Regions from separate parts of the Homo sapiens genome. Here region 2 is linked to region 1. The links come from fine-mapping of genetic effects on gene expression. Tissue or cell type: whole blood. Region 1 holds a variant in brackets; the other region holds the start of a gene. All regions are shown on one strand. Distances are from middle to middle.

Region 1 (11,076 bases):
CAAAAATGGTAAAAATGGTAAAATGTTATGTGTATTTTATCACAATACAAAAAATACCAAAAAGAAAATGCAAGCAGACAGTAGGGGCCTAGAGATAAACTAAACCCTCCCGCACCCCCAGCCCCTTCCTTCTGCAGAGGACAGAGGCGCTTGATCCTGGCCTCTAGTTTTCTGAGAGGAGGCCAGTTTGATTAAATCAATTCACACCTAGGCAGGCTCTCCAGGGAGGGGGTCCTGTTTAATCTAAATTACTCTCTGCAAGGTGCTCTTTCAGGCCTCTTGGAAGAGATATTTTTGTCCAGGGACCTTCCTGTTTCAAATAACATCCTTTGTGAGCCCTTCCTGGCTGGTCCTGGAAAGGTCAGTGAAGGGGCTGGCAGCCTCTGACTTCCTGTGGGCAGATTCCAGGAAGGGGCAGCAAGCCTGGCCGCTAGGCAGCCTGCAGCCTCCGATGGCTCCTCAGTGCTCCAAGAGCAAGCACCTGGCCGCAATTACCCCGCTGGGCACTCGGGGCTTCTGCAGGGGCACCTCAGCTGGGAATTAGGGGGAGGGGTGACCACCCCAGCAGCTGTGTCCCCACAGGGAGGGGGTCTGCGGAACCGGCCATCATTTACTGCACAGACCGTGTGATGGACATGAGCCCTCGCTGGTCTTCCAGGCCCACTGGCAGCGGCCCCTGCCTGGCCCTTGTGGCCACTCACTGTCCTGTCTCCAGAGACCCCACACCCAAGTGTGAGGGCCGAGTTCTCGGCCAGGTTCCCTTTGAAGAAGGGGTGATCCCTGGGCCCCCTGCGGCCTCCAGCTGCTGTCCCACGCAGGCTCTCTCCAGCCCTCCAGGCCCGGCCTGGCCGTGCCGACAGCACATGCTCCTTCCCCAGCCCCGGCCCGGTTGGTCCAGTGGTGCTGGCTGCTGCTGTGGGTGCTGCACTTCCTTCCTCGGATGCAGTAAACTTCACGTTTTGCCTCAGGACGTTCCGAATCAGCCATGGGAATTGAACACTGGTTTAAAGCCACATTGGTGTCATCCCTGCTTTCTGCCGCTCGGAGGCCTGTGCATGCGCAGCCGGGATGGCAGTGGCCCCTGTTTATTCAGACGGGCATTTCAGCAGGGCTGGAACTCAGAGACACACCTGGTTCTAGTCTTTGCTTCCTTGCCTGTAATTTTCTCACATGTCCCCACTGCAGCCTGGTGATCTGTTGGTCTGGAAGTGGTACAGGTGTTAATGGATAAATAGCTGTACTCAATTGTAAAGTGTGGTGCGGTCCGCTGGTTTGAGGGGTCATTTTCAAGGCGGGTGCCCACCAGGCTGCCTGCCTCACCAGCTCACCATGACCCAGCGTGACCTCACCGTGCCCTCCACCCAGCGTGACCCGGAGCTGAGGGCTCCTCCCGTTCCACAGTTGAATTCCTGCCCCCAAATTGTCATGATGATGCTGGGACCAAGAACAGGTGGGTGGGGGCAGTGGCGGCGGCCTGGGAGCAACTGGTTTAAAGCTGGAGTGAAAACCCTGACTCTCCAGGATCTCGTTCAAAGGGGCCACTCCTTGTCGGAGCTGCCCTGAGCTGCCCTGGCAGAGCAAGGCCCTGGCGTGGAGCCCGGGACGTGGGCCCCTGCCTTGTGGGAGCTTGGGCATGGCGTAAGCCCCAGACACCATCCTCTCCCGCCACCCGGCGCTGCGCCGGCCAACTTCCCCTCCCTGAGGTTGGCGGGTGCGTCCAGGTCCCCTCCCTGAGGTTGGTGGGTGCGTCCACGTCCTCTCCCTGAGGGTGGTGGGTGCGTCCAGGTCCCCTCTCTGAGGTTGGCGGGTGTGCCCCTCCCTGCAGGGCTGTTCGCCCCCTCCCTATTTCTTGGTTCTGGGCTGCAGTCTTAGAACACACTGGTGACAGCCGCCCGAGCCAGCCAGGGGTAGGAGGGCAGGGTGCCCAAGAGGCCAGGTTTCCCAGCGCCAGGGTGCCCAGGAGGCCAGGTTTCCCAGCGCCAGGGTGCCCAGGAGGCCAGGTTTCCCAGCGCCAGGGTGCCCAGGAGGCCAGGGTGCCAAGCGCCAGGGTGCCCAGGAGGCCAGGGTGCCCAGCACTCTGCCCGAGAGTGTCTGCTGGCCCCGGTGCAGCCACGGGTTTGCTGGTTGGTACTGAGGAAGGTGCAGGGCTTGCAGAGGGGACTGGGCAGGTCACATGTCTGAAGCTCAGCAGTGGGTGGCAGCGCTCTGGGTGAAGAAGCAGCACCAGGACACAGGGAGAACCCTGGGAAGGTCAGTGGAGGCGCATGCAGGACACAGACAGCTGCCGACTGAGTCGTGCCCCCAGATTCGCAGCTGAGGCCCAGCCCCAACGGGACTGTATCTGGAGCTAGGACCTTGAGGGAGGGACTTAAGGTTAAATGAGGTTGTGAGGAAGGCCCTGACCCAATAGGACGTGTCCTTGTAAGAAGAGAAAGCGACACCAGGGATGCGTGTGTGCAGAGGAGCGGCCGTGGGAGGACACAGGAGAAGCCACCGTCTGCGGGCCATGAATAGGCCTTGGGAGAAACCGCCCAGCAGCCCCTTGGTCTGGGACTTCCAGCCCCCAGGCTGCGAGGGAACAATTTCTAGTGTTGAAGCCCCCGCCCATGGCGCTTTGTTACAATTGCTGGAGCTGATGAGGCCGGTCTTACACTTGCCCCTTATCCGACAGGACTGGCACCAGCGCTGCGGGAGGTGGCGGGATGTCGGGAAGCTCCGGTCTTGGGAAATGCCACCTTCCGCAGGTGATCCTTGAGCTGCGGCTTCTGACCCTGCGGATGGAGGGGCATGTTGCCCAGGAGGCTGTGTTGGGGCCCTCAGGGAAGGAAGGCCCGTGTCACAGATGGAGCCGTAAGCTCTGTGGTGCCCGGCACGGGAACAAGCCTTCTTTGGCCGCCTCTCAGCCCCCGTTACCATGAATACCGGGGCCCGGGGCCTGGGGCCCAGGGCCCAGTGCCCTCCCAGGATGGAGAATGGGCCAGGAAAGTCCATTTCCTCTTCTGCTGACCTACTCCCCCTTACCTCCCCTGAGTTCTGAGCACGTTGCCCAAAGAACAGGGGCTCTGAGTGAGTTTGGGATTGGAGGGGAGGGGTGTGTATGGGGGGGGCAGCTGATGGTCACGGGTATTCTAGGGGGAAGATGTGGGGAGGGCCGTGAGCACCTCCTGCCTGGAGTTCTGGGCAGTGGCTCAGGAAGAGGGGAGGGGGACAGAGAGAGACACAGAGACAGAGACAGAGAGACAGGGAGACAGAGACAGCCAGACAGAGACAGCGAGAGACAGAGACACAGAGACAGAAAAACAGACAGAGACAGATGGACAGAGACAGAAAGAGAGACAGAGAGAGAGACACACACAGAGAAGCAGAGAACAGGGAAGAGAGGGGAGAGGGGAGAGAGGGGAGTGGGGAGGGGAAAGGGGAGGGGGAGGGGAGGGGGGAGTGGAGGGCAGAGAGGGGAGGGGACAGCGAAGATGAGAGAGTGAGGAGGGGAGAGGGGAAAGGGGAGAAGGGAGAGGGGAGACAGGAGAGGGTGGAGGGGAGAGGGGAGAGGGAAGAGGGGAGAGGGGAGAGGAGAGAGGGGAGAGGGGAGACGGGAGGGGCGAGGGGGGAGGGGAGAGGGGAGAGAGGGGACAGGAGACGGGGGAGGTTTTCTTCCTCCTGATTATGGGGGCACCAGGGCTTATAGGGCTGGGCTGCCCCTGCCCTGTGGAGCGTCTGGGCTCTGTATGGAGGGGCCCTGTCTGGGGCCCAGAGATGCTGCCAGGGGTGGCCGGGTGAACTGACTGCGGCCCAGTGCAGCTCTGGGGAGGGGAGTGGCCACCCTGACGCCACCTGCCCCGCCTCTAGCACCAGAAGCAAAGGTGGAGGCCAGGAAGCCCCGGGAAGTCCTGCAGGGCTGCAGGGAAGAGGGGTATCTCTAAGCAACAGCCACAGTTGGTGGCTGGGAGCACTTCAGACTCCACATGACCAGGTCTGATCCTGCCAGCAGCACCCATGATAATGGTGACTTGGGCAAAATGAAAGTTCACTTCTCCCTCACTAAGCATTTTGTTCTGAATTTGTTCATCTGTTGATCTGTCCCGGCGAACCCTCTTGTCTCTGCCTGAGTGTCCAGTGGCCTCTCTGCACCAACGGAGTTATTCCTTGTCCACGCTGTCCTATGCAGCAGCCACCGGCCACATGTGGCTATCGGCACTTGAGCTGTAGCTGCTGTGGCTGAGGACCTGGATTCTTCATTTTTTAAAAAAAATTTTAACTTAAATATAAACTTCAGTGACCACACAAGCTTAGTGGCTGCTGTCCCAGTGAGGTCTGGGTGCTGAGGACACAGTGGGGAAGACAGTCCCCAGGGAGCCTCCATCCCAGGAGATACAGAAAACAAGCCAGGGGAGAGCACAGAGAGGGAGGCAGGGACAGCTGTGGTGCCCGTGGCGGCTCTGGTGCCCATGGCGGCTGTGGTGCCCGTGGCAGCAGGGACGGCTGGGACAGCCAAGTTACAGGCTCAGTGACATCTCTCCATTAGGACTGGGAGAGGACTGGGGGTCCTACTGCCTAGCACTTGAGAATGTGATGGTATTGGGAGGGAGCTGTTTGCAGAGGTCATCAAGTGACAGCTCACAGGGGTGCATCCTAATTCAATATAACGGGTGTCCTTATTAAAAGGGGGAATTTGGACACAGAAATAGACACTCACAGAGCAGGGACGATACAGAGACACAGGGAGAAGCTGGGGCCTGCAAGCCAAGAAGAGGCCGGAACCGGTGCCCGCCTACAGCTCAGGGGAGCAGCCCAGCCACACACTGACCTGGGACTTCAGGCCCGAGGCTTCGAGACGTGTCTGTGGTGTGCACAGCCTGGCTGCACTCATTTCCACAGCGGCCCGAGCGTATTGGTATAAACGTCCCGTGTCCACCCTCCCCCTCAGCCTGGCTGCTCTGAACTGGCCCAGGCCCAGCTTGCCCACCTTGGCTGCAGCCCCCAACGGCTCTGCCTCATGCTGAGCCTCCCAAGGGGTTCCCCTCAGAACATTCTCCCATGGCGTGGTCACCTAGAAGCTACTCCGAGCTGTCATGCCGGTGCAGTGACCACATCCCTCCCCAGCCAGTGCTTGTCAATGGCCCTCCTGGGTGAATCTCCCT[T/C]CCCTGCACCCCCTCCGCCAGCCACCTGAGCCCTCCCCGGGGCCCTGGGCTCCGCCCTTGCGCCTCTCGTTGCCTGGTGAGCAGAGCTTTCTTGTCCCACTGGAGTAGAGAGCGTGGAGCCAGCGGTGCGAGTTCCTGAGCACGGGGAACTCCGGGATTGCTGGGCATGCTGGCACCGTCCTGAACCCCATCTCCCTGTTTACAGAATGACGCCTCCCTCCAGGGACAGCTGTGGGGAGGGGAAGCCAGCAGGGAGCACCCCCCCTCACCAGCAGGGGGCACCCACTCACCAGCAGGGAGCACCGCCTCGCTGGAGCTGCACCTGTTTCCTCCTCCCCTGCTTACCAGTGTCTTCCAGACCCGGTGGGGGGGAACAGAACCGAGGGAGATGGAGACGCAGGTGTGGCTGTGTGTGCAGATTGGCGGTCAGGATTCACCCGAGGGGCCATGGGGATCACATGCCTCATCGCCTGGGATGTGCTGGCTGGGGCAGGGCCACCTTTCTCAGGAGGGGGATCTGCCTGGGTTCCCATGGGGCCCTGCTCCCTGCATGCAGGTGGGCCGGGGCTGCAGCGGCTGGTACGAGACAGCCAGCCAGCGATGGGAAACAGCGTTTCTGGGGGGCCTTCTGAGGGCAGGACGGCGCCTCTGGGGTGCTGGTTGAGGCCAAGGCGGTGGTGCCTGGTCACCGACCTCGGAGCGTTTGATGCCCTGAGACCTGGGATGCTCTGGGAGACAGAGGTGCAGGCCGGGCGTGTCCTGACACCTTCCAGCATGTCCCGGCCTGGTCCGCATCTGTGACCACAGAGGTCTTCTTGGCACTTCTTGGGATCAGAGCCCTGAGGCCCATGCATCCGGAAACGCCGTTTGGAGATGTGGAAAGTCCCTTTTGACTCACAAAATCTGCCTTTGTCTCAGCAAGTGTCCCAGAACCGTGGGGACGTAGTGGCCCTAGACTGGGAAGTGGGGCTCGGGAACCAGATTCAGAATTACTCACCTTCCCCAAAGACACGGGGCCTGCCGGGAGGAGGGACGTGGGTCACAAAAGTGGGCCGTGGCCACCCCAGGGTCAAGCAAGCTCGCCGTGTGCACTCGGGGAAGGCAGGCTGTGCGGACGCCTACAGAGGAACATGGGGGCCACTCTGCCTCCTGTTTCCCGGCACCCACACCCGCTAGGGCCACTGCCCAAACAGTTCTCGAGGCAACCTCGGTTCCAGGTTCCGGCATGTGGCACCATTGCTGCTGTGTGGACACCACCCCTCAGAGAAGGCCAAGCCGGCAAGGCCCAGGCAGTGTCAACCGCCCCAGCTCCCAGAACCGCATCTGTCAGGCTGAGCCGCCTCTTGGTTTGGGGCCCAGGGCCCTCGTGAGGATGTAGCTGAGCACCAGCTGCATTTGCCTGGAGTGGTTCCTGCCTTCCAGGGGCTGCTCCCCACCAGGGCTGGGCTTGGGTGCAGGCACTGGGGCCGCACGTCCTGGGGAGATGCTGTTACCAGCGAGGGTCCCCCGCCAGGATCCCAGCCGGCTGCCGTGGAGGCCAAGGGCTCACACTTTCCCCCTTCCTCTTGCCTACGGACCATGAGGACTCAGCAGCCACCTGGTGGGCTACGCCCATGGGGATGAGGAGGGAGCCCAGCTGTGGGGACCATCGGAGGCTCCCAAAGTGCACCTGCTGCCGCCCAGAGCCCCCCCCCCACCCCAAGCTTGGGTGAGGGGCGACCCCTGCAGCTGTTTCAAAGTCAAGACTTCAGCTTGCTCTCCTTTCAGAGGCCTGGGTGGTGGGTGCAGGTCCAAGGCTTCTGGCCAGTGCCCTGGAGTCGAGTATCCCCGGCTCACCTCAGGGCACATGTTAGGACCCAGCATGTGTTAAGGACCTGGTAGAAAGCTGTGTGTTGCAGTTGAACAGACACCCTGGGGCTCCCACTGTGCACACAGGGCTGTGTCGGGCAGTGGGGCTTAGCTTCCTGGGCCTCTCTCTGGAGCCCAAGTCCTTCTAAGTTTGGACCTTGATCCTGTTTTGGTTTCAAGGTTTGTAGTAAACTAAACGGTGGCCTCCAAAGAGCTACATCTATGTCCTGATTCCTGGAACCCGAGAATATGACCTTATTTGGAAAAGAATCTTTGCATGTGGGGTAAAGATCTCCAGCTGAAGTCGCCCCAGTTTATGTGAGCGGGCTCTAAGCCCACTGGCAAATCAGAAACAGACGAGGAGAGAGGCACACAGAGGAGGAGGCCCTATGAGGTTGAGAGGTGAAGCCCGCTGGGCCTCTGGGTAGGGTGGGGACTTGTAGAACTTTTCTGTCTAGCTAAAGGATTGTAAACACACCAATGAGCAGCTCTGTGTGTAGCTAAAGGTTTGTAAATGCACCAATCAGCACTCTGTAAAAATGGAGCAATCAGCACTCTGTAAAATGAACCAATCAGTGTTCTGTAAAATGGACCAATCAGCAGGATGTGGGTGGGGTCAAATAAGGGAATAAAAGCCGCCCTGCCCTGCCCCACCCCGCCGGCAGTGGGTGGTGCCCTGGGGTTCATTTCAATGATGTGGAAGGTTTGTGTTTTTTTCCGCTTTTCCCCTTTTGCAATAAATCTTGCTGCTGCTCACTCTTTGGGTCCGTGCCACGTTTAAGAGCTGTAACACTGCAAAGATCTGGGACTTCATTCTTGAAGTCAGCATAAACCAAGAACCCACTGGAAGGAACCAACTCTGGACACAGCGTGACCACTTCTGAGAAGAGGAGGGGCGGGTGCCGGCGGCTATCCCTGCTCCAGGGTCACTCAGGAACCAGGAGCCCAGGAACCAGCCCGGCAAGAGAGACTGCTCCTTCTGCCACAGCTCACTGGACCCCCTTAGGGTGTCTTCCACAGCGCTGGCGCCGACATCCATGATTCTCCTCACAGTGCGCCAGGCCCCGGGGAGCTGGTGCCGGGGGAGGGGCAGATCCAGGCGCTTGTGCTGTCTTCTCCGCCAGCCAGACCAAGGGTTCTGATGACGCACCTGGGCGAGCAGGGAGGGCCTGACCTGCAGAGGCCATGTCCAGGAAGAGGAGCCCCGGCCCCGAATCGCCCAGATGTGTGGCCCAAGGACAGCCGTGCGAAGTCCTGGGGCGGGCCCTGTTTGCCAAGTCCAGGATGAGGCCATGGACATGAGTGGGGACCACCCGGAGGGGAACGGGGTCATTCAGTGCCTGCTCGGGGGGTCTGGACGTCCAGGCAGGTTGAGGAGGAGGGGGAAGGTGTGGACAACGGGAAGGGAAGGTGTAGCTGGAGCTGAAGGTGGTCTTCTAGCAGTGGGGACCCCCTGGGGCTGGGTGCGGTGTATTTGACGTCCCTGGCAGGTGCTGAGCTGTAAGGAAACAAGGTGGGGAGGCAGGCAGTCAGGGATGGAGTCCTGGCTCTCTGGGCCAAGGTTCTTTGTCATTCGTGGTCTGATCCTTGTCCTTCGGAGTCCTTGGTTTCTCGGGGCACAGATGGAGGGGGCTACGCAGGAAGTGGCTCCGGATCGTGCCTGGCCTCGAGTGCTCTGGGAAGAGGGCACAGGTGGCCCCGCCTGTGATGGGGGCATGAATCCTTGGAGTAGGGGCAGGGTGAGCTTGAGGGGGTGAAAACCCGGGACTGCAGCGGCCTCACTGTGGCTGGGTGTGGCTCTGTGCAGCCAGCTCTGGGCTGGGAAACACTGGCTGTAGACACACGTGTGTCTGCATGTGTGTCCTGGTGTTGGAGTGTGTGAGCACGTGTGTGTGTCCTGCTGTTGGTGTGTGTGCACATGTGTGTCCTGGTGGTGTGTGAGTACATGTGTGTGTGTCCTGGTGGTATGTGTGCACGTCTGTGTGTCCTGGTGTTGGTGTCTGAGCACATGTGTGCCTGCGTGTCCTGCTGTTTGAGCATATGTGTGCCTGCGTGTCCTGCTGTTTGAGCATATGTGTGCCTGCGTGTCCTGGTGTTGGTGTCTGAGCACGTGTGTGCCTGCGTGTCCTGGTGTTGGTGTCTGAGCACACGTGTGCCTGCGTGTCCTGGTGTTGGTGTCTGAGCACACGTGTGCCTGCGTGTCCTGGTGTTGGTGTCTGAGCACGTGTGTGCCTGCGTGTCCTGGTGTTGGTGTCTGAGCACATGTGTGCCTGCGTGTCCTGGTGTTGGTGTCTGAGCACACGTGTGTCTGCGTGTCCTGGTGGTGTCTGAGCATATGTGTGCCTGCGTGTCCTGGTGTTGGTGTCTGAGCACACGTGTGCCTGCGTGTACTGGTGTTGGTGTCTGACCACGTGTGTGCCTGCGTGTCCTGGTGTTGGTGTCTGAGCACACGTGTGCCTGCGTGTCCTGGTGTTGGTGTCTGAGCACACGTGTGCCTGCGTGTCCTGGTGTTGGTGTCTGAGCACACGTGTGTCTGCGTGTCCTGGTGTTGGTGTCTGAGCACGTGTGTGCCTGCGTGTCCTGGTGTTGGGGTGTGTGCACATGTCTGTGTGTCAGTCGTGTCTCATGTCTTGGTGGGTGTCAGGAGGAGTCGTGATTTCTCGGAGCTGGGTTGGAGGGACAGTGGAGTGTTTCCCTCTATTGCACGGATGGTTCCTTGGGAGGACAAAGCCGCACAGCAGTGCCTGCAGGAGCAGAGACGGCCACGATTCTCCCTCCTCCTGTGGCCTCTCCGCAGTCTCCTCTTCCATGGCCTCTGAACCTTCTCATCAGCAGCTGTTTGCTTAAACATGGGAATCTCAGCATGAATCAAGGGGCAATGTGCATCCGTGTCCTCTGGACCCGAGCCAGGCCTGGAGATGGTGTGCTGCTTACCCCTGCACCCCGCAGGGCCGACGAGGCCACCATTTCTGTGGGAAACTTACAGGATGAGCAGGGAGGTTGAGGGAAACGGGGAGTGCGTTTTGGATGTGGGGATGGTGCAGTCCAAGCTGGCACTGTTTGTCAAACTCTTGAAGATATTTTTGGAAAACCCACCAGCTGTGAAACTGCACTCCTCTGCAAGAGACCTGGTGTGTTCCTGCCCTTACCAGGGCGAGGGACTTAAGCTGAGCCTTCAGTAAACCCTGAATGGGATGTTTGTCTTTCCAGGAATATCGTCACACTGTCACCACTCATGCACGCACCTGAAGCTGCGTGTGGCATCACTTTGCACATGTTCACACTTACAGAAATGGCACTAGGGGTAAGCACCGCCCTAGACTTGTTTTGGAGCTGTCTTTGTACCCCTGTGGCGACTTCAACCCTGGGACCAGCATCATGTATCTCCATGGCCACCCTGGATCCCGGGGCAGCAGGGCTGGGGACGAGGGCCGCAGGTGACATCACCCACAGTTGACTGCACCTGGGCTGGAGCGAGAATGGCTAGTGTTGAGGCATTTGTCCAAGGCCCTGGAAACGGGCCTAGTGTTGAGGCATTTGTCCAAGGCCCTGGAAAACGGAGCATGGTGGTTGTGTGTGGTTGACTTCCTGGGTCCTGGGAACTCCCTCTGCCTGTTTAGTCAAAATCTCACAGGCTCAGCTGCAAATGCACCTTTCAATTTCCTTACTAGGAAGGTTCTGGCTGGCCCCACAGTCTTTCCAGATGTTTCTCCTTTCATTTTCCATCTACTCATCCCCATCTTACAGATGAGCAAACCGAGGCTCAGGAAGGTGAATGTCTTTTGTTTGAGATGGAGTCTTGCCCTGTCGCCCAGGCTGGGGTGCAGTGGTGAGATCTCGGCTCACTGCAGCCTCTGCCTCCCGGGTTCAAGCGATTCTCCTGCCTCAGCCTCCCGAGTAGCTGGGATTACAGGCCCCCGCCACCATACCCAGGTAATTTTTGTATTTTTGGTAGAGACGGGGTTTCACCATGTTGGCCAGGCTGGTCTCGAACTCCTGGTAATCTGCCCATCTCAGCCTCCCAAAGTGCTGGGGTTACAGGGATGAGCCACCGCGCCTGGCCGTGCCCTTCTTTTTTAAGGTGGAACAA
Region 2 (7,899 bases), 26 kb after region 1:
TGGGACTTCAGGCACCTGCCACCATGACCGGCTAATGTTTTTGTGTGTATTTTTAGTAGAGACGGGGTTTCACCGTGTTAGCCAGGATGGTCTCGATCTCCTGACCTCGTGATCCACCCACCTCAGCCTTCTAAAGTGCTGGGACTACAGGCGTGAGCTACCGCGCCCGGCAGGGATCAGTTTTTAAGGACAGCTTAGTGGGTGAGGAAGCCAGTGAGCCAGGAGTGCTGATTGGTCAGGTCAGAGATGAACTCATAGGGAATTGAAGCTGTCCTTTTGTGCGGAGTCTGTTCCTGGTGGGGGTCACAAGATCAGATGAGCCAGTCTATTGGTCTGAGTGGTGCCAGCTGATCCATCTAGCGCAACAAGGATCCGCAAAACATCTCAAGCATGGATTTTAGGAGCAGTTTAGGGAGGGTCAGAATCTTGTAGCCTCCAGCTGCATGACTCCTAAACCACAATTTCTTTAATCTTGTGGCTAATTTGTTAATCCTACAAAGGCAGTCTAGCCCTCAGGCAAGAAGGAGGTTTATTTTAACTATAAACTAAGTTCCTCCCAAAGTTAGTTCAGCCTACGCCCAGGAAGGAACAAGGACAGCTTGGAGGTCAGAACCAAGATGGAGTCAGGTCGGAACCCTTCCACCAACGGTGATAATTTTGCAAACTTGGCTTCACTAGTTGCTTCGTTGCTCCATCTCGGGCTGGTAGGAACCCCTTCCCTGGCTGCCTCCCCAGCGAAGGCTGCACCCCCACCCCCGCAGGCCAGGCCCAGCTCACCCCAGCCTGCTCAGTGGCCCCTCGCAGTACGCTCCCCACCAGCCCCCCAGCCCATCCCCACGGCTCTGGGGTTTGAGCAGGACCCTCCGCGGCTCTGAGACAGAGCCAGCAAATCCCTGATCTCATGGTGTTGCTGGGGTCGGGGGCGGCATCCATGAGGGTTGGCCTCGTCTTCCAAACCCAGCTCTTTATGACGTCTGAGAGAGGATTGGCCACATCGTGTCCTGGGCTCTGCTTCCATTTCTGAAGGGCTGCGTGTCTGCCAGGTTGGGAGGTTTTGAGCCCATCTGGACCCTGGCATGGCCTTTCCCCCTGAGCCGACAGCAAACATTTGCCCAAGCTTCACGGGAAAGAAGTCACCTGTGGAGCAGGAACGAGAGCTGGCGGGGGGTGGGTGGGCTTCTGGGCAGCTTGGACTTCAGAGGAGATGCGAACCTTCCCTGTGTCTGCAACTCACGGGCGTCCGTGTGAGATTCTGAGTAACATTATGTGAGTTACACTTTGAGAGAAGGAAAGCCACACACGTGGTCTAAAAATCCTGGAGCCTCCTGAGTGAGGGGAAGAGTGTGTCGGACTCATCCACGGAATCTTCCAGAGGGAACTTGAGCGAAGACTCAGTGTCCGTGAATTACAGGACTGAGAGCTTTGTCGCTCAAGCTTGACCTTCTGTTGGCGTCACTTACAGTCTCAGACACAGATGGTCTGAGACGAGCTCTGTGGGAGGGGAGGCCCCTTCTATTCCCAGATTCAGCTCCATGGGATGTACCCCTGCCCAGCAGGCACAGGACCCGGGGGAGGCTCAGAACCCCACGTACCTGGCCACTGTGCAGACAGGCTCCCCAGCGCCAGGCCAGGCCCACCATCCACCAGGCCCAGAGGCCCCGCCCTGGGCAAGCCAGGGATCGGGGCGGGGGGCAGCTTGCGGTGCCTGCCTGGGAAGAGCCTGGCATTGTTTGCAGAACCCTTGGGACAGGGCTGCTTCTTCAGGGGAGATGCAGCCATGGGCCTGGGGCTGTGGCTGGGGTCTTCTGTCATCCCTGCCTACCACAGCTCCCTTCGAGCCCCCACAGGTGGTGGCGGATGTGGGGCTTTAGGGCCACCCTGGCCATGGGCAGAATTCTCGGCCCTGGTGGGACTCCTGGGCAGGGAGAGTGTGGGTCCCACAGGTGGCCGGAGACTCTGCTTCCTCCACTGATGTCCACATACCCCACCCTGCCAGGAGAGGCTCACCACGCTTAAAAAAAAAAAGGTTTGTTTTTTAAAAATCACTTTAGCCTTGGGTAACTGGGGCCTCCCTTCCCTCTCCTCCCTTCCCACCTCTTTCCTTTCCCTCCCCCTTCCCCCGATTCTCCTTCCTCCCCTCTCTCTTCTGCTCTGCCCTATTCGCTCTCTCCCCCACTCACCATGGGTGCTGGGCCAACAGGCAAGAACCTGGGTGGGTGCCCGGCCCTGCCAGGCAGAAGGCGGGTGGCTTTCTGGTGAGAAGGAGTGTGGGGCCTCCAGGGCCGGCCTCCTCCAGGTGTCCCCTTCCCTGGACACGGAGCTCTCCACGGACACTCTGCCTGCCAGCCCCACCTGCATCCTTCAGCCCTGGAGGTGCGCCCTGCCTGATACCCGACAGCAGGTTCCCAGCCCAGAAGGATGCAGATGGCGCACCAGGAGATGAGCCCCCCACCCTAACAGGAAAGCAGAAGTGGACTGGGGGGACCCGCGGACCTGGGGAGAAGCTCCGTGGGCAGAGGCACACAGATACCTGGAGGCAGCCTGCGTCTGGTGAGAGCCCTCCCAGGCCACAGCCCTGATTCCAAGCCGTGGGCACGAGCGGCCTCCTGGCTTGGAAGCTGGCATTGGGTGTCCGTCCTAATCCATTAGAAACTCCACCCCAGGGTGGCAGGCAGCAGGGACTGTTTCGAGAATCTACACACAGAATGTAACCACCATCGGCTACACTTTCGCACTAAATCCCAGGGTTCCCCTGGCTGTGCCCTGCACACGGCCAAGAGGCCATCGCAGATGACCAGGCTCACATCATAAGGATGCGAGATTGCATTTGAAGAGGCCCCCTGGGCAAAGCTGGACACCGATGCTTGGAAAGGGCACTAATGGTGATCGACTGAGACCCACCAATGTGTTTCATCAGCGATGTACAAATATACTTGGGAGATTGTCGGGAACCAATTCACCGTTGTGGAAACTGACAAATGAGGGAGAGGCACCCTTGCCCTGCCTTTCCTGTGGGCACCATTATCCAGATGGCCAGACGGACAAGATGAGCCTCTCCCTCCAGTGAATTCATGACGAAGCCACCACGCACTGGAAAATCACCATTTTGCTCCATGAATCTGTCGATTCAGACATCAAGCACCAACGACTGCGGACGGAGGAGCTACCACCAGACAGTGCGTGGCTCCCTCTGCGAGCCCCCGGCCTTGCCAGGGGACTGGACCCGGATCCCAGCAGTCCCCTGGCTCCAGGTGCCCACTTCCAGGAGACGCAGAGGCCTGCACCGAAAGATGCAGCTCCAACCCAGGCCTCGGGTACCTCCACGTGTCCGAGGGCCACTTCCTACAACAGGTGCCGGGTACAGAAAAGGACAGAGGGATGGAGGTGGGTAGGAAGAGAGCACTGAAAGTCACACAACGCACATTTAACCCCAGGCTGCCGTGTGGGAGGATATACGTGGACACGGAAACCCACAGAGCGAAGGGAGGGGCCACCAGACCCCTAGGGATGGGCTACTGATGGGATGGGAGGGGCCTGCAGCGGCTTCTGGGCTCCGGCAAGGGTCTCTGTCTTGACCCGCAGGTGCTTACAGGGTGCTGATCCCTGTCGTGACTCACCTGATTAGAATGCAAAAGGCAGCAGACCTCACCCCCCACCCGAGGTCTCCCACAAGTAAGATCTAAGATTTAAACAAGAGAAGCCACCTGCCTTCTGCCTGGCAGGGCTGGGCACCCACCCAGGTGCTTCAGCCATGGCCCCTGGTCCTAGTCAAGATTTTGTAATCACAGAGAAGACCACCCTCGGAGCTGCCACAGGACCCTAAACTCCTGGGCCTCAGTTTCCTCCTCTGTAAAATGAAGCTGATGAGTCCTGAGTCCGGGAGCTGGCCCTGGCCACAGACCCTCCAAACCAGCTCCTCTGAAGGTCCACAGCCAGCACATGGCGGGCAGCCGGCCCTGGGGTCCTGGGGTGTGAAGCAGAGCTTGGATGTGCGACGGGAGCCCTGCACATCTGTTGCTCCTGCTGGCATCACTTGGGAAGGCCTCGTGCCCACCCTGAGCTCTGTCCAACCCTCGGGAATAGCGCTGGGTGGCAACCAGGGTTGAATGTACAGAAGCCCCTGCTGGGGTGACTGAGGAGAGGGTTTACCCAGCACCCTAAGTGTGAACCCTATAATTGACCCCATTGGGCACTTCTGTTCCCACCCCCTGGATCTTTTTAGCAAAGCCAGCCCTCCTCATAAGGATGCCTGGGAACTATTTTATCTTCTGGGGAGGTGATGGTTTCCTACCTTCCAACCCACTGACCCAGGGAGGCAGCTGACCTAGCACCATCCACAGCCCTGAGCTCCCTTTGGTGGGAGGTGGGGTGAGAGTGTGGAGCAGGCACAGCTCCAGACACCCAGGCCAGAGGAACCCCCACCTCTGCAAGGGCTGGTGCTGGATGGGCGACGTTCCAGGAGGGTCCCAGGCCTACAGCTTCTGCCCAGAAGAGTCCATGGGGCAAAGGGGTAGAACCCTAGGCCACCCCAGGGCATGACTGGCTTTACTGGAAATGGCTGGAGAGGTTGGGCTTGCGTTCCTTGAACCCACAGAGCCCGGTGATCCCACAGCCCGGAGGCCATCACTCCCCTCCAGCTGCCTTTTAGGATTAGACAGGCAAGCGGCTAAAACATGGCCAGGCCATACCCATTTTCCACGTGACAAGAGGCTGTGGCCGTGTTTGCCCACACCACCTGTGTTTCTGCTTTGTTGTCGTACAGCAGTTGTGGGTGATTAGGAATAAAGGCTGACTCATTGCACCTGTGTGCCATAGCATTTTAGCCCAATTCCCCATTGACGGACATCTGATTGTTCCGTTTTTCATGAGTCATTTGTTGAGAAATGTGCCAGGTGCTGGCCGGTGGTATCCTGGTGTCTGCCTGGTGGGTTCTGGAACTCCACCTTCCCTGCATCACCCTGTGAGCTTCTGGAACATTTCCCAAGGAGGGAAGGGAGGGTTCTAGGGCAGGGGCCGCGGGGCACTCCTGGGGCAGGTGTGGAGGAGACTGGGGTCTTCGTGGGTGGTATTTGTCATGGGTGGGGGGGGGGACTCCCTCTACTGGGTTAGGTCCCTAAACTGGAGCTGGACCAAGCTCCGGAGTACCCCACCCCCAGGCTATCCAAGGCTCCTTCCACTGGAGTTGCCTTTGCAGCCAGGTTGGGCTAGCCAGGAGCCAGGCTAGGAGCCCAGGGTCTGAGCGGGTGTTGACAGCCTGGAGTGGGTGGGCGGACTGTGTGGGAGGTGGGTGCTGGAGGATGGCAGGGGGGAACAGGAGGGGGAAGAAGGAGGGGTAGGGGGCTGGAGCAGGAAATGGGGGGCAAACAGGAGGGGGTGCGGGAGGGGGCGCAGAAGGAGGAGGGGCCCAGCAGGAGGGGGTGCAGAAAGGGCAGGGGTTCCAGCAGGAGGGGGTTCATAGGGGCAGGGGGGCCCAGCAGGAGGGGGTGCAGGAAGGGTGGGGGGGTGCAGGAGGGGTGAGGGGTTCCAGCAGAAGGGCGTGCAGGAGGGGCAGGGGGCTGGAGCAGGAGTGGGGGGTCGGGGAAGGGGACAAGAGGGGAGGCGGGGAGGGGGCCGGGGAGGGCGGGGAGGGCGGGGAGTTCCAGCAGGAGGGGCAGGGGGCTGGAGCAGGAGGGGGTGCAGGAGACTGAGCGGGGATTCGCGGGCTCTGCGATGGTCGGGAGCGCAGGCAGCGAAAGCCCCGCGTCCCGGGTCGCGGCGGTCAGACAGACGCAGCCTGGGTTGGGGTCCCTGCAGGAAGTCGCCGCGGGCCAACTTTTCGTGGGGCCGCGGGGCAAGCAGGTGAAGTCACGTGGCCCGGGCGGGGCGGGGCGGCTCGGTCGGACCCCGCCCCTGCCTCCAAGTCCCGTGGCGTCGGCGGGAGCGGCGCAGCGCGGGCCGGGCCGGGACGGGGACTGTCGGCTGCAGGCGGCCATGCCCACCAACTTCACCGTGGTGCCCGTGGAGGCTCACGCCGACGGCGGCGGGGACGAGACTGCCGAGCGGACGGAGGCTCCGGGCACCCCCGAGGGCCCCGAGCCCGAGCGCCCCAGCCCGGGTGAGCGCGGCCGCACCTGGCCGGACAAAGGCCGAGCGCCCCGAGCGCGGGTCTGGGCCCGGCATCCGGGAGCGGAGGCGGGCGGCGGGGCCGGGGGTACAGGAGGCGCCCCTTCCCGCGCCCCCACCGCCTGTTCTCGGTCCCCCACGAGGGCCCCCACCCCACGTTAGTGGCAGCGCTAGGGGGCGAGGGGCCCTGCCAGGGCTCCCGGTACGGTCAGCTCGGGTGGGACCGGGGGCAGAGGTGTGGACGCCGCTGCTGGTAGCCATGGAAACGGGGAGGGGCTGGAGCGCGCCTCCGGAGGGAGCCCGGGCCCCTGGGTGGTCCCTAGTGGGACAGGGGTGGCGGTGGAGACCCGGGCGGTTCGGGAGCCGGGGCGTCCTGCGTCCCCCGCGCTCTCCCTTCCCCTGCGCCGCGGCCGTCCGGTAACACTAGCCCGGGCCGGCCCGTCCTGCCCCCGCCTGACCCTGGAGGAGCCGCCCACCCCCCAGAGGCGGAACAGGAAGGACTGCGCCCTGGCTGGGGAGGGGGCAGCCACCGGGGCCTTGCTCAGGCCGCGTCCTCCGTGTTCCCGTCCCCCGTTCCGGGAATCTGGAGGTTTCTAGCACTTTCACTTTCTCTAGGGGGTGGGGACGGGGCTGGGGAGAGAATCCCCCAGCCCTGTTCCCTCCATCCTGGCTCCAAATCCCAGTTACTCCCCGGATCTCAGCCCCCTCTAGAAACCGGAGGCTCTTAGGCCCTTCCATCCGGAGTCTCTGAGAAGGTGTCCGGACTCAGTCCAGCCCCCACCCCGCGTGCTGGCAGTGCCCGCATGTGCCCGGGTCTCATGCAGTGGGTGGCAGCCTCCCTGCTCCCTGGCAGTGGAAGGAAGGTGAGGTCTGTCCAGGGACAAGTCCGGTGCCAGACCCCAGATCCTTCCTAACCCACCATCCCGGGCAGGAAAGGCCAGACATCCCCTCCAGGCAGTTTAGGAACCCGGAGACACGGGTGGGGACCCACCGTGAAGGCAGTGGCCTGGTGGCCTGGGGTGCGTCATCAGGGTCCCCGTGGCGGGCGAAGAGTGGTCTCAGCTTCCTCTGCACAGAGGCCAGCCCAGATCTTGGAAGTGGTCAGGCGGGGCGCCAGGCTCAACACCAGGTGAAGTGCTAACTAAGCAGGGTCCGTGAGTCCAAGCCCCTTCTCTCCAGTCACCACCGTGGAGGCAGGAAGCACCAAGGAGTGTGGGCCCTGGCGTGGTCTTTCTGTGTGAGCTTTGTAGCAACGCCCCCGGAACGCACTCAGAAGGAGCCTCTTCTTGTCTGGCCGGCCCCTTCTCAAGGCTGATCAGGTTCACTTTTGTCTTTAGACTGTAAGTGTCATTTGCTTTTAAGCCAGAGAGAATTTTGTGCTTGTTCGTTTTCTTGTCTCTTCTACTCTCAAGGCTGTTGAGCAGTGCCCTGGGCCTGTGTCTGCCCAGCAGGAAGTGGCCCTGGCTGAGCGCTGCCCATGTCGCTGCCCGCGCACTCAGGTCCTGCTACGGGCGTGTCAGGAGGCTCCCTGGCCTTCATGAAATTGAGAACGGGAGGGCATGGGCCAGGTGTGGGCTTCTGGACACTTTTGAGGGTGGCCCTGTGGTGTGAGCTGAACTTGGGAGATTTCTCCGAACTGGCAGAGAACTTGCACCTGGCGCTTTTGTGCTGGACCCGCTTCCTACTTCCACAGAAAGGGCCCGGTGCCCAGCCACTGCCAGGCTGTAACGGGCACGCAGCTGCCCTTCGGAATCCACTTGATCACATCCTGATCTTCAGCCCACAGAGGTGCGGCGA

The links. PIP is the estimated chance that this variant, and not a neighbour inherited with it, causes the effect.
Region 2: it holds the start of SLC12A7, and the variant in region 1 is fine-mapped to the expression of SLC12A7 in whole blood (INTERVAL, PIP above 0.99).

The regions. Positions count from the first base shown.
Region 1 is chr5:1,134,825-1,145,900 of GRCh38, reverse strand. It overlaps a transcript of SLC12A7 not described here. Among named protein-coding and RNA genes, the nearest start is that of SLC12A7, 28 kb to the right of the region's middle. RefSeq lists enhancers at 4,564-5,407, 8,199-8,731. The variant T/C (reference allele first, on the strand shown) is at 5,139.
Region 2 is chr5:1,110,063-1,117,961 of GRCh38, reverse strand. It overlaps SLC12A7 (solute carrier family 12 member 7), which reads left to right and starts at 5,899. Exons shown (of 24, transcript NM_006598.3): 1 at 5,899-6,094. The coding sequence starts at 5,971. RefSeq lists an enhancer at 13-546.